Homo sapiens: one gene and its partners. The protein of the gene in region 1 interacts with the protein of each later gene in a pairwise test. Each region holds a gene or a part of one and is shown in the gene's direction. Other genes may lie near its edges.

What was found.
Region 2: the proteins of GMFG (region 1) and CAMK1D interact in a two-hybrid assay, tested with the Homo sapiens proteins (one large-scale study listed by BioGRID and IntAct).
Region 3: the proteins of GMFG (region 1) and PSD interact in a two-hybrid assay, tested with the Homo sapiens proteins (one large-scale study listed by IntAct).

Annotation. Positions count from the first base shown.
Region 1 is NC_000019.10:39,333,225-39,337,421, reverse strand, and holds the start of GMFG (glia maturation factor gamma), read left to right. Parts: upstream 1-1,378; 5' UTR 1,379-1,445; coding exon 1,446-1,448; intron 1,449-1,867; exon of another isoform or gene 1,868-1,890; coding exon 1,891-1,987; intron 1,988-2,111; coding exon 2,112-2,161; intron 2,162-4,197.
Region 2 is NC_000010.11:12,348,212-12,352,346, forward strand, and holds the start of CAMK1D (calcium/calmodulin-dependent protein kinase type 1D), read left to right. Parts: upstream 1-1,335; 5' UTR 1,336-1,607; coding exon 1,608-1,699; intron 1,700-4,135. UniProt on the Homo sapiens protein: Calcium/calmodulin-dependent protein kinase that operates in the calcium-triggered CaMKK-CaMK1 signaling cascade and, upon calcium influx, activates CREB-dependent gene transcription, regulates calcium-mediated granulocyte function and respiratory burst and promotes basal dendritic growth of hippocampal neurons.
Region 3 is NC_000010.11:102,408,668-102,412,293, reverse strand, and holds part of PSD (PH and SEC7 domain-containing protein 1), read left to right. Parts: intron 1-66; coding exon 67-147; intron 148-474; coding exon 475-587; intron 588-1,177; coding exon 1,178-1,236; intron 1,237-1,346; coding exon 1,347-1,436; intron 1,437-3,016; exon of another isoform or gene 3,017-3,399; intron 3,400-3,626. UniProt on the Homo sapiens protein: Guanine nucleotide exchange factor for ARF6. Induces cytoskeletal remodeling.

The DNA of each region.
Region 1 (4,197 bases):
CCTGTGGAAATTGTCTTTTGTTTGCTTTTATCTTCTCACTGAAATACATATGGTTTTTGTGTGAACTACATTCCTTTTATTTCTTCTTTATATGACAGTCAGGACATTATATTGATTTTTTTTTGAATTTATGTGTGTAAGTAGGTTATATTATCTAGGAATTTTATTTCGGGATGGGAAAAGGGGGCAGTGCAAAAATACTCAATAAAAAAAATAGCCGGGCATGGTGGCTCACAGTGGCTCACACCTGGAATCCCAGCACTTTCGGAGGCTGAGGCAGGTGGATCATTTGAGGTCAGGAGTTCGAGACCAACATGGCCAACATGGTGAAACCCCATCTCTACTAAAAATACAAAAATTAGCCGGGCGTAGTGGCACGTGCCTGTAGTCCCAGCTACTTGGGAGGCTGAGGCCGGAGAATGGCTTGAACCTGGGAGGCGGAGGTTGCAGTGAGCTGAGATCGCACCACTGCACTCCAGCCTGGGCGACAGAGTGAGACCCTGTCTCAAAAAAAAAAAATTGGGTACCGGTCTGACGGGATTGAACTCCCTTGTTGTAGGGCCTCATAGGTCATTGCAAGGCTAGTGAGGTTGGAAAAGTGCAGGAAAAAAGTCACCATTACCCAGGCACTGTGGGGTTGCCCCTCTGGTCCCCATTTTGCCATTGACATAATGGGCGTCAGTCTGACCAGCAAAAGACTAAACTCCCCTTTTCCAGCCCTGCAATTCAAATATCCCAGATGGGGGTAAATCTAGGAAGGCCACCTGGAGGAGGGGAGGAGCAAAATAGTTCGTTTTTAGTACCTATTGTGTCTGCCATGCTGGCAGCTATGTGAAGCTATTTATTTATTTATTTTTATTTATTTGTATTTTTATTGCCTGGGATAGAGTGCAATGATGTGATCTTGGCTCACTGCAACCTCTGCTGCTCGGATTCAAGCAATTCTTGTGCCTCAGACTCCCGAGTAGCTGGGATCACAGGCGTGCACCACCATGCCAGGCTAATATTTTGTATTTTTAGTAGAGATGGGGTTTTGCCATGTTGGTCAGGCTGGTCTCCAACTCCTGACCTCAGGTGATCCGCCCGCCTCGGCCTCCCAAAGTGCTGGCATTACAGGTGTGAGCCACCATGCCCGGCCGATGTGAAGCTATTTATATCCTCACCACAATCTCAAATCAGAGGGGTGAAGTTACTTAGCTAGGGTCACACAGCAAGGAAGCTTTGGAACCCTGGTCTGAGCGATTTCCTGACAGGTCCTGGCAGATGAGGGGAAGGAAGGAGGGGGAGGAGCCCTCTGTGACAGTTGTCCCAGAAAGGGCATAAACAGGATGTGGTGTTGGATGAAACCTTCCTCCTACTGCACAGCCCGCCCCCCTACAGCCCCGGTCCCCACGCCTAGAAGACAGCGGAACTAAGAAAAGAAGAGGCCTGTGGACAGAACAATCATGGTCAGGGGCCAGGGGTTCTATGGGAAGAGCTGGGGCTGGGGTTGGGGCTGGGGCTTGGAGGACACCTGGGCGAAGGTCAGGCTATGGGATGGAGGTCACGGGCCGGGAAGGGGGCCCAACTGTGGTGAACAGCCCGGCTGGAAGAACAGAGAGACAGTGGCTCTGGGTTTAGGCTCAGGAAGTGGATCTCTGCACCTCCTTGAGTGTCCCCCAAGAGTCCCCGTGGAGAAGGCGGGAACCCAGCCTCTGCTCCGCCCCCCAAGCTGAGTGCCCTGGTGAGGGGTATCTACTCTGTGGGAAGGGTGCCTTTTCTCAATGTTCACAAAGGCATCAGATGGGCCGGCGCGATGCTCCTCTTCATTAGTGGATGGAGAAACAGGTTTGGGGAAGGGGTGAGGGCTGAGGCCAGGCCATTTCAGCTCTTCCTGGGTCCCTCCGGCAGTCTGACTCCCTGGTGGTGTGCGAGGTAGACCCAGAGCTAACAGAAAAGCTGAGGAAATTCCGCTTCCGAAAAGAGACAGACAATGCAGCCATCATAAGTGAGTGACATCTTCCCCCACAGAAGGATGGGAGGGCGGTGGTGAGGGCAGATAGGGAGGGCTGGGCTTGTGTCCCCCATGGATCAGGGGGAGTGTCTAATCCCTGTGTGCCACCCCTCCCCAGTGAAGGTGGACAAAGACCGGCAGATGGTGGTGCTGGAGGAAGAATTTCAGGTGATGGGCTGGGGTGATTGGGACTGGGAGGTACAGGGTGAGACTGGGAGAACCAAGTGGTTGGAACTGATATGAAGAGCCTGGCATGGGGGTAGAAAGACCTGGAGATTGGCCGAGCACAGTGGCTCATGCCTGTAATCCCAGCACTTTGGGAGGCCGAGGCAGGTGGATCACCTGAGGTTGGGAGTTCAAGACCAGCCTGGCAAACATGGTGAAACCCCATCTGTACTAAAAATATAAAAAGTTAGCTAGGCATGGTGGTGGGCACCTGTAATCACAGCTACTTGGGAGGCCGAGGCAGGAGAATCGCTGGAACCCGGGAGATGGAGGCTGTAGTGAGCCGAGATTGTGCCACTACACTTCAGTCTGAACCACAGAGCAAGACTCTGTCTCAAAAACAAAAACAAAAAACAAAAAAACAAAAAACCCTGGAGATCAAGTTCTAGCTCACTCATGACCCCCAGCAAGAGACTTTGCCTGTTTGTGTCTCTATTTCCTCATCTGTGAAATGGGGAGAATAGTACTTATCTCATAGGCTTGTTTTTACATCCAGTGATTTAATTCTTGTAATGGGTTTAGAACAAGGCCTGGCACTTAGTATGTGCTCAATAAGGTGATGATGATCTTAATAATGATGATAATAATGCTTTATTGGCATTTAAATGAAAGAGTTTCCATATAAGTTAAAAAGCTAGCCAGGCATGGTGGCTCATGCCTGTAATCCCAGCGCTTTGGGAGGCTGAGGCAGGAGGATCACTTGAGCCCAGGAGTTTAAGACCAGCCTGGGCAACATGGTAACACCCTAACTCTACTAAAAATACAAAAATTAGCCAAGCACAGTGGTGTGCACCTGTGATCTCAGCTACACAGGAGGCTGAGGTGGGAGGGTTGCTTGAGGCTGGGAGTTTTGAGACCAACCTGGGCAACAAAGCAAGACCCCATCTCGGCTGGGTGCCGTGGCTCACGCCTGTAATCTCAGCACTTTGGGAGGCTGAGGCGGGCGGATCACAAGGTCAGGAGATCGAGACCATCCTGGCTAACATGGTGAAACCCCGTCTCTACTAAAAATTCAAAAAATTAGCTGGGTGTGGTGGCGGGTGCCTGTAGTCCCAGCTACTCGGGAGGCTGAGGCAGGAGAATGGCGTGAACCCCGGAGGCGGAGCTTGCAGTGAGCCAAGATCGTGCCACTGCACTCCAGCCTGGGCGACAGACTCTGTCTCAAAAAAAAAAAAAAAAAAAAAAAGACTCCATCTCTACAAAAAAAAAAAAGGGGGTAGACCTCACCCCCCTGGTGGCCTCACTGTCTTTATCAATAACAAGAATGATAATAAGGCTTATTTCTCTAGTGTTGCGATAAGGATTTATAAGGGAATCCATGGAGACTGGGGGCTGGGGCTCTCTCAGGCCCTCTGAAAGGCAGTATAGTGAAGCAGTTATGATTCGAACCCAGATTCAAATCTCAACTCTGCTGCTTTCTATCTGTGCAATCTTGGGCAAATGCCTTAACACCTCTGGGCCTCAGTTTTCTCAGCTGTATAGTGGGCATAATGATGGGACCTACCCCACAGACTTACGGGATAGTTGCATGAATTAATCCATGTGTGTTTCATAGAACGATGCCTTGGCACATGGTAAGTGCTCACCTAAAGGTGGTCATTCTTTTTTTTTTTTTTTTTTTTGAGACGGAGTTTCGATCTTTTTTGCTCAGGCTGGAGTGCTATGGCACAATCTTGATTCACTGCAACCTCCGCCTCCCGGGTTCAAGCAATTCTCCTGCCTCAGCCTCCTGAACACGCCTGGCTAATTTTTTTGTTGGAAATGGAGTCTCACTCTGTCTCCCAGGCTGGAGTGCAGTGGCGCGATCTCGGCTCACTGCAACCTCTGCATCCCGGATTCAAGCAATTCTCCTGCCTCAGCCTCTCGAGTAGCTGGGACTACAGGTGCATGCCACCATGCCTGGCTAATTTTCTGTATTTTTAGTAGAGACGGGTTTCACCCTGTTAGCCAGGATGGTCTGAATGATTTCCTGACCTTGT
Region 2 (4,135 bases), on another chromosome or scaffold:
TCGTCTGACCTCTTTAGGGTCAGAGTAGGGGCTGAGGGAGAGCAGCTGGGCTGCCTCCACTTCAGCCAGAGTCAGAACTAGGCACAAGGTGCTGGATGAAGTTTCCTATTCAGGGAGCAGATTTTTTTTTTCCTTTTACAGTGAAATTGGAACAGTCCTGGGAAAATGGGACAGGTGTCCCCAGTCAAGAGACAGAGCTGTTTACCCAACTACGAGGAGAGGCCCTGAGGGAGGCGAAGTGTTGATACCAAGAAATCTAAAATTTTCCGATCAAGAGGTCGCCCCTGCAGGTTGGGGACCAGGGAACTGGAGCACGTGGGCTGCCCTCTGACAGGTGGACACCAGGAGTGGGGCGGGCAGGCCAAAGTACAGCTGGGAGATGGGAGTCCGGAGGGAATTCTCTGGGTTAGTTTTGGCAGTCCATAGGAAAGCAGGTGCCTGCCCCGCAACCCGGACACCCTACTAAGCCAGCCGCGGGTGGGCTCCTCCTTCGAGGGGACTGCGGGGCAGACGATCACTTCTTTCCACTGAGTCTCTGGGAGGAGACAGGGAGATGCCAGAAGGGGCCAAGCGTGAGCCAGGGCAACCAGGCCGGCCAGGCCCGCCGGCCGCTCCAGCCCAGCACCAGGGCGCCCGCGCGGCTGCCAAACACCCCCGGGAGTTTTGCTCGCAAAGGGACCACGAGGCAGCTGCTGGCGCGTCCTGCGCGTACCCGCCCAGAGGCTCCCCGGCTTGCTCCTCGCGGGTCTGTCCCGAAACTGACGTGAAACCGATTTGGTGCAATGCGAATGAGCTCCCGCCCGCCTCCGCCTCCATCCCAGCCGCCGCCGCCGCCCGTCGCCATAACAACCGGCCCCCACCCCCCCCACCCCACGCCTTGCCCCTCGGGTCCCCCGGGCCACAGGCCACAGCGCGGGAAGGCGCCCCGCCCTCGGCGCCCCGCATCCGGCCGCCGCGCACCCCCGCCCGCCCGGCGCTTCCGAGCCACGCAGAGGCGCCCCCTCCCGCCGGAGACGGGAAAGCCCCGGCGCCCCCAGACTGGGCTCCGTTTCCAGCTCCCGGAGGGGCTGGGGCTCTCCCGCGTGCGCCCCGCACCTGCCGGGGGCCCGTACCCGCCCTCGCCGGGGCTCCAGGGGGCACGACGGCCGTGGCCCGGCGCTCTTGGGAGGGGAGCGGGACATCCCCGAAGGCGGCGCGCTGGAGGCGGGGAGCGGCCGGGGCGCACGGAGAGGGCGGGGAGCCCGCGGGAGGGGGAGGAGGGGGAGGAGGGGGAGGAGGCGCGAGGTGGGGGGGAGCGCGGCGGGCGGCAGGGAGGGAGCGGGAGGGAGGCAAGAAAGTAGCAGAAAGTGAGGCTGGCAGGCGGCGGCAAAGGAGCCGGCGCGCGGCGGCGGCAGGAAGTCTGTGCCCGAGAACAGCAGAAATAAGAGCCAGGGAGGGACCGCGGCCGCGGCGGCGGCGGCGAGAGCGAAAGAGGAAACTGCAGAGGAGGAAGCTGCGCCGCAGCCCGAGCCGCCCGGCATCCCCGCCGCCTCTGCGCCCGCGCCGCGCCCCCGGCGCCCCCTCCCCAGCGCGCCCCCGGCCGCTCCTCCGCGCCGCGCTCGTCGGCCATGGCCCGGGAGAACGGCGAGAGCAGCTCCTCCTGGAAAAAGCAAGCTGAAGACATCAAGAAGATCTTCGAGTTCAAAGAGACCCTCGGAACGTAAGTGGGGACCGGGGAGGCGAGGGTGGAGGTGGCCGCGGCAGGGGCTGCACGGGCAGCTCCAGCTGCCGCCGCCGCCACTACCGCGGCAGAAACCCAGCCTGTCACCGCGTCCTCATTGTCCCGTTCTCGGCGCTGCGGAGCCCCCCCGAGCGCGCCCGACGCGTGGGCCTGCGACCCCCGGGTGGGCGCCGTTCCCGGGAGGGGGAGGGGGCAGCGCCGGGCTGTCAGGGAGCAGCCCACGCGGGCGCGCGACTTCCCACTTCTCCTGCCACCGCCGCCCTCTCCGCTGCCTTCTCCCCACGCGTGACTGTGGGCTGAGCATGGTGGGGATGGCTGTTTACCGGCTGTGTGCGTTTACTCGCCGTGTGCATGGGCGCACCGCGTTGGCGAGACGTGGTCACGAGAAGATCAGCCTCCAGTCGTTCCCATTTCTGTCCTTACATCATGTATTTCTATGGAATTGGCATCTGCACGTACGAGGTGTAGGCAAGACTTTGGGTGGCCACGCGAGGATGGAAGGGAAGGGCTTCGCAGTGCTCAGGGTCACACGTGGGCAGAGCCTCACCGGAGGGTCTGTGCATTTCACGCGGGCTCGGCCGCACGCGCCGGGGAGCGCGTCTCCAAGGGAGGGTCTGTGCGCGTCGCTGCGCGGGCGGTGCTCTCTCCGGGCTGCATCGAGTCCCATGCTGATGGCTGTGTCTCAAGAAAGCAGAAATAATCCGAAGTCGATGGCAGGAACGCTCCAAGCATGTGCTGCTCAGCTCAGCTGCTGTTCCCTTTCTGCCCAGGAGTTGGGTCTTGTTTGTTTTGTTTCGGAGCGGCTCAGAATAGGTGGGGAGGCTGATAGTGAAAGAGAATCAGGACCTGCCGAATGAGTCTGAAGTTCAAGTTATTTCCTTCCCTCACACAATCAGTATTTGCTCTGCATCAGTATCTGTCAGTGTGGATTCACGCACAGGTGTGCAGTCAGAAATGCCCATTTTGCAGGGGTTCATGGAGGTGTTGATTAGGCTGGGAAGAGAAAGGGGAGCTATTTCATGGGATAAATCAGTGCGTTGTTGGGTGCCCTTTCTTTCCTTCCTCCTTTTTTTCCGTGTGCTTGTTTTTGTGCTTGGTTTCTTTTTTCCAGCACCACATTACCCAGCTTGTCTTCACCTCCAGGCTCGGCGTCTGCTGCTGTTCAGTCATTTCCCCTCACCCCCACGCAGATCTGCAGGGGGTCCCCCGGAGAGAAGTTGTGAGGGTGGCTTTCCCAGTCCTGCTTCTGATTCCCGGGAAGGCGCACGCTGAGGACTAGAGTGGGGTCTCCCTGCTGTGGTTGTTGCCTTTCAGGGAGGGCACCTATTTGCTATCTTTGTTGGAATGAAAACAGAAAAAGATGTAGCTTTTTAATAAATAGGGGTTTGGGGTTGCCTCTTAGTGCAGCCAGGTAAGGGGTTAGTTTGGGTCAAAACTTTTGAAAATTGCCACTGAGGTTTATTCGGGTTTGGGGTTGTGATTCTGAGATGCTCAAGTTACTGAGAGACAAGAAAGCATGGCCTTTGCTTGTCATCCAGGACCCGCACTGTGGCCGCCAATGAGGAGATGGGAGAGCATGGGGACCCACCCTGTGTGAATGCTTTCCTGTCCGTGGCTTGTTCCCACCCGAGCCCCCCACACTGGCTTCCTGCCTGTAGCCTCCGGGTGACTGATGCCCTGTCCCCTGACTGACTCGTGCAGCTGCACCTCTGCAGTGGCGGGGCTGCTGAGGCTCCAAGCTGTGGCTCCTGCTGGAGCATGGTGTTTGGAGATGACTGTGGGTGGTTTCCACCTTGGGGAAAAATGGGGATTTGCCCTCTGGTGCCAGAGCGCTTCTCTGGCAGAACAGCCTCTTGGACTCCAGCCATGTTCCCTGTGAGCTTTGGGAATGGGTCTCTCTTAGGGTCCTAAAGCATTGCCTTCTGCCTGGGATGGAATTCTTTGCAAAGGAGCTTCCCACTGTAGCACTGGCATTGGACCTAGAAGAATGATAGAAACAGTGTGATGATCAAGATGTTTTTACTCCACATAATAATCATGGTAATCATAGGTGGTATTCTGAAATGTATACCCAGGATCAGGTATTATTCTACGTGCCTTATGTGTATTAACTCATTTAAATCTCAGAGTAACCTTATGAGGTAGGTATTTACCATTACACCCAATTTGCAGATGAGAAAACTAAGGCAGCAGAGATAATTATGTGAGCTACCAAACCTTAGCTAACTATTAAGTGGCGGAGCTGGTATTCACAGATAGGCAGAGCAACTTTTGATTGTCCATACAGGGTTGACACACTTTGTAGATCCTGTAATGGCCAATGCTTAGTCAATAATTTGACTTAACTTTAGTATTTGGAACGCGAACTTTAATATTAATGTAAAGAAAACATAATGGGCTGGGCGTGGTGGCTCA
Region 3 (3,626 bases), on another chromosome or scaffold:
GTAATCCCCACCTGACCCCCTGCACTTCCCCTTGAGACCCTACCTGTCTCTCTGCCCTGCCCACAGCAATGACTTCAGCAAACTGGTGGCTGGGGAGTACCTCAAGTTCTTTGTCTTCACGGGCATGACTCTGGACCAAGCTCTCAGGTGGGTGTTGACCCCTTGGAGGACAGCCCCCACTCTCCGGGGTTCGTGTTAGGGCCCCAGGATGCCTCCTTTGAGCCCCTCTGTCCCCCACAAGCCGTCCTGACATCACCCTTCCCAAGATGGCTGGGCATGGCCAAGGGCCAGAGCTGCCTGGTAAAGGGACCTTGGGTAGGGGTGATGGGTGGAGGGTCAGGGTGCATACCCTCATCCCCTTTCTCTCCTCCCCTTCCCACCCCAGCTGCTGTACTCTCAAAGCCTCCTGTCACCCCAGAGACAGAGGCTGGAAACTCCTGGTTGCTAGGCAACCCTCTCTTGCCCCTTCTCCAGGGTGTTTCTGAAGGAGCTGGCCTTAATGGGTGAGACCCAGGAACGAGAGCGCGTGCTGGCCCACTTCTCCCAGCGATACTTCCAGTGCAATCCTGAAGCCCTGTCCTCAGAGGGTGAGGAGTTCCGAGAGCAGGGGTGTCCTTAGCTGGCCACAGTGGCAAAATGGGCTGGGCCCTGTGTGTGTGTACAGGAGCATGAGTGTGTGTACAGCAGGGAATGGATGTACATGCGTGTAGGCATGTGAACTTGCATGTGTGCAGACAGCGCTGTCATGGCTGCATGTATGTGGAACTATACATGTGGGCAGGCATATTGCTAGGGTTGAGTGTGTTGTGAAGAGGCAGGAGTTTGCATGCCTGTGCAGGCCAGTGCTTGGCTGGAGAGGGGATTCTGTTTGGCTGCACTGGTCTACAGGACTGTGCTGCGGTTCACTTTCTCGTGGTCCAGGCTTAGAGGCAAGGGAACGTTGGGGCAACTAGTACGTTGGGGCAACTAGCCCTCAGTACTTGAGGGAGCCAGGGACGGGTCCTTGCTGACGGATCTGCTGGAAGAGGAGCTCTTTGTGGGGAGGGTTTACTAGCGGGGTTCAGGAGGTAGGAAGTTGCCGGCCAAAGGGGGTGGGGATGAAATGGGAGGTTGGGGAAGATGGCTGTGGGAAGGGTCCCTGGGAGGCAGCCAAGGCTGAAAGTCAGCTCTCCCCTAGACGGCGCCCACACGCTGACCTGTGCGCTCATGCTGCTCAACACGGATCTCCACGGCCATGTGAGTGGAGGCGGGCGGGCAGGAGCCGGAAAACAAACCCCTGGCCAGACATGCAGGACCTGGGAGGCCAAGGGCCCTCCAAACTCACAGGCCTCCGTTCCCTTCCTTAGAACATCGGGAAGCGCATGACCTGCGGGGACTTCATCGGGAACCTGGAGGGCCTCAATGATGGCGGCGACTTCCCTAGGGAGCTGCTCAAGGTGGGGGGCGGGGCAGGGTAGAAGTCGCTGGAGGGGAAGGATGGAGGACCCAGTCGGCGACGGAGTCCAGAGTCGGAGGGAGGGCAGGGCTGGGGCTTGCCGACCCCCGGCTCCTGCCACGGAAGCCCGGGCTCTCGTGACTCAGCCTGGGGACCGCCCCCTCCCCAGGCCCCACGCGCAGGCTCTCCCGGAACATGCGCACATGCGTGCGGTCGCGACTGCGCACGGCGGGGGAGGGGACCCGGCTCTGGAAAACGCGAGCAGGCGGCCCCGGCCCCTGCGTTTGCCTTCAGTTCCCCTCCTCCAGTGTGCGCTGGGGTGGAAGGCGGGAGTTGCGGGGGTCCCTGCACGGGACAGGGATTGGATGGGGGTACACTCCACACTGCTCCCCCGCCGCGTGGACAGCCAAAAAGACCTTCCCGGTGCTGCTGCGCTGCAGGAACCCGGAGGGAGAGGGGCCTGAGAGGGACTAAGCTTTTCCAAGGTCTGGCAGCGAGTTAGCGCAAAGCTGGAGCTAGAAACTGCTTTCTGGCTCCCTGTGAGCAGGTCCCGTTCCCAGGCGCCAGCTCCATGGCCCGCAACCGAGGGCTCAGATACGTAGGGGCTGGTGCCGGTAGGAGAAGGGAGTGGCTCATCCAGTGGGTTCACTCCTCTCCCTGATCTGGTGGTAGTTTATCTAGAGAGGCCTGGACTCACTTGAAGAAACCCCCAGGCTAGGACAAAGGTGTCTCTGCTCCACTACATACATGTAACAGCACAGGATTGTCCTAGGGCGTTTCTGTGAGCTTGGGGTGCTGGGCTTCTGAGTTTGGGGTATATCTGAGAGGGAACGTCCATGGTGAGCTGGGGTGTTGCTTGAGTTGAGTTGCATCTGTGTGCCCGGGCGTCGTGAATCAAGGGTTTGTATGGCTTGGTGTGTTTGTGCTTTAGGGCTTACGATTCAGAGTGTGTGTTTGAGTTGGGGTGTAGGCTGGATGTTTATGTGTGGTGGGGTTTACATCTTCGAATTGGCCGTGTCTGAGGTATGCCATATGCCTCTGAGTAGGGGGTGTATCTTTGTGAGCTAAAGATTCTAAGTTTTGAAGTGTCCATCTGAATGGGTAGTGTCTGCGAGTTGGGGTGACCGTGAACTGGTGCGTCTGGTTTGTTGGGGTGTATGTCAGAATCGAGGTGTGTTACGTGACTTCAGATCTATATATGGGTGGGGTATCTGCGGGTGAGCTGGATGAGGCCAGGGCTGTTCCTTCCCTGCCTCCGTCCTCCCTCGAGGCCCCTCTTGGCTCAGTGGAAAAGGGCTGCAGGGAAGCGGTCCGACCTCTCCCCTCCCACCACCCCAACCCAGACCAGCCAGAAGGGAGTTCCAGACCCTGCCGGGTCCGCCCAGCGTCACAGCCCCAGGCCTAGCGGTGCTCTCAGCCTCCCTGGAGCTGCCACCCACGCTGGCCTCCCCAGGCTCCTCCCCGTGGCCGCGCGGGGAGGGCCCCCTTCGCGATCGGGCGCCTCCATTTCATGCGGTCCCCGCCCCCAGCCCTCGCCCTCCCTTTCCCGTCGGCGCCCCCCTCCCGCTCTAGCCAAGCCGCAGAGCAGACAGCGCCGCCGCCGCCGCCGCGCACTCCGTGCGTCCGTGAGAGCCGGGCCGGCTCGGGCCGGGCCGCGCCGCTCGCGCTGGCTGTCGGGGGAGCGGTCCGCGGGCCGTCCGGGCGGCCCGGGGGCCGAGGGCGGACGGGGGCATGGCCGGGGGCCGCGGCGCGCCGGCCGGGCCAGCATGATCGGCGTCAACAGCATCCACAGCAGCGCCGGGCGGCTGCGCTCGCGCTCGCTGTGCTCCGTGCGCTACGGGCGCACCCACCGCGGCGCGGAGACCCTGTGCTACGGCTGGCCGCAGCGCTCGCGCAGCCTCAAGCCCGTGCTCTACACCGACCTGGTGGTCAGCCGCCTGCAGAGCCGCAAGAAGAAAAAGGCGGTGAGGGCGTTGGGGCCGCGGCCCACGCCAGGTTGCGGGGCGACCGAGGGGGCGGCTTGTGGGAGGCACCGAGGGCGGTGCCAACCGAGGGCGGAGCCTGGTAGGGACAGAGGTCATGGGCAGCCAGAGGCGGGCACGGGCTGGGGGGGCAGGGAGGGCACAGACCCTGGGGCCAAGGTGGGCCTCAAAAACCGAAGAGGCTTTTCTAGATTGAATATGACTTGCGG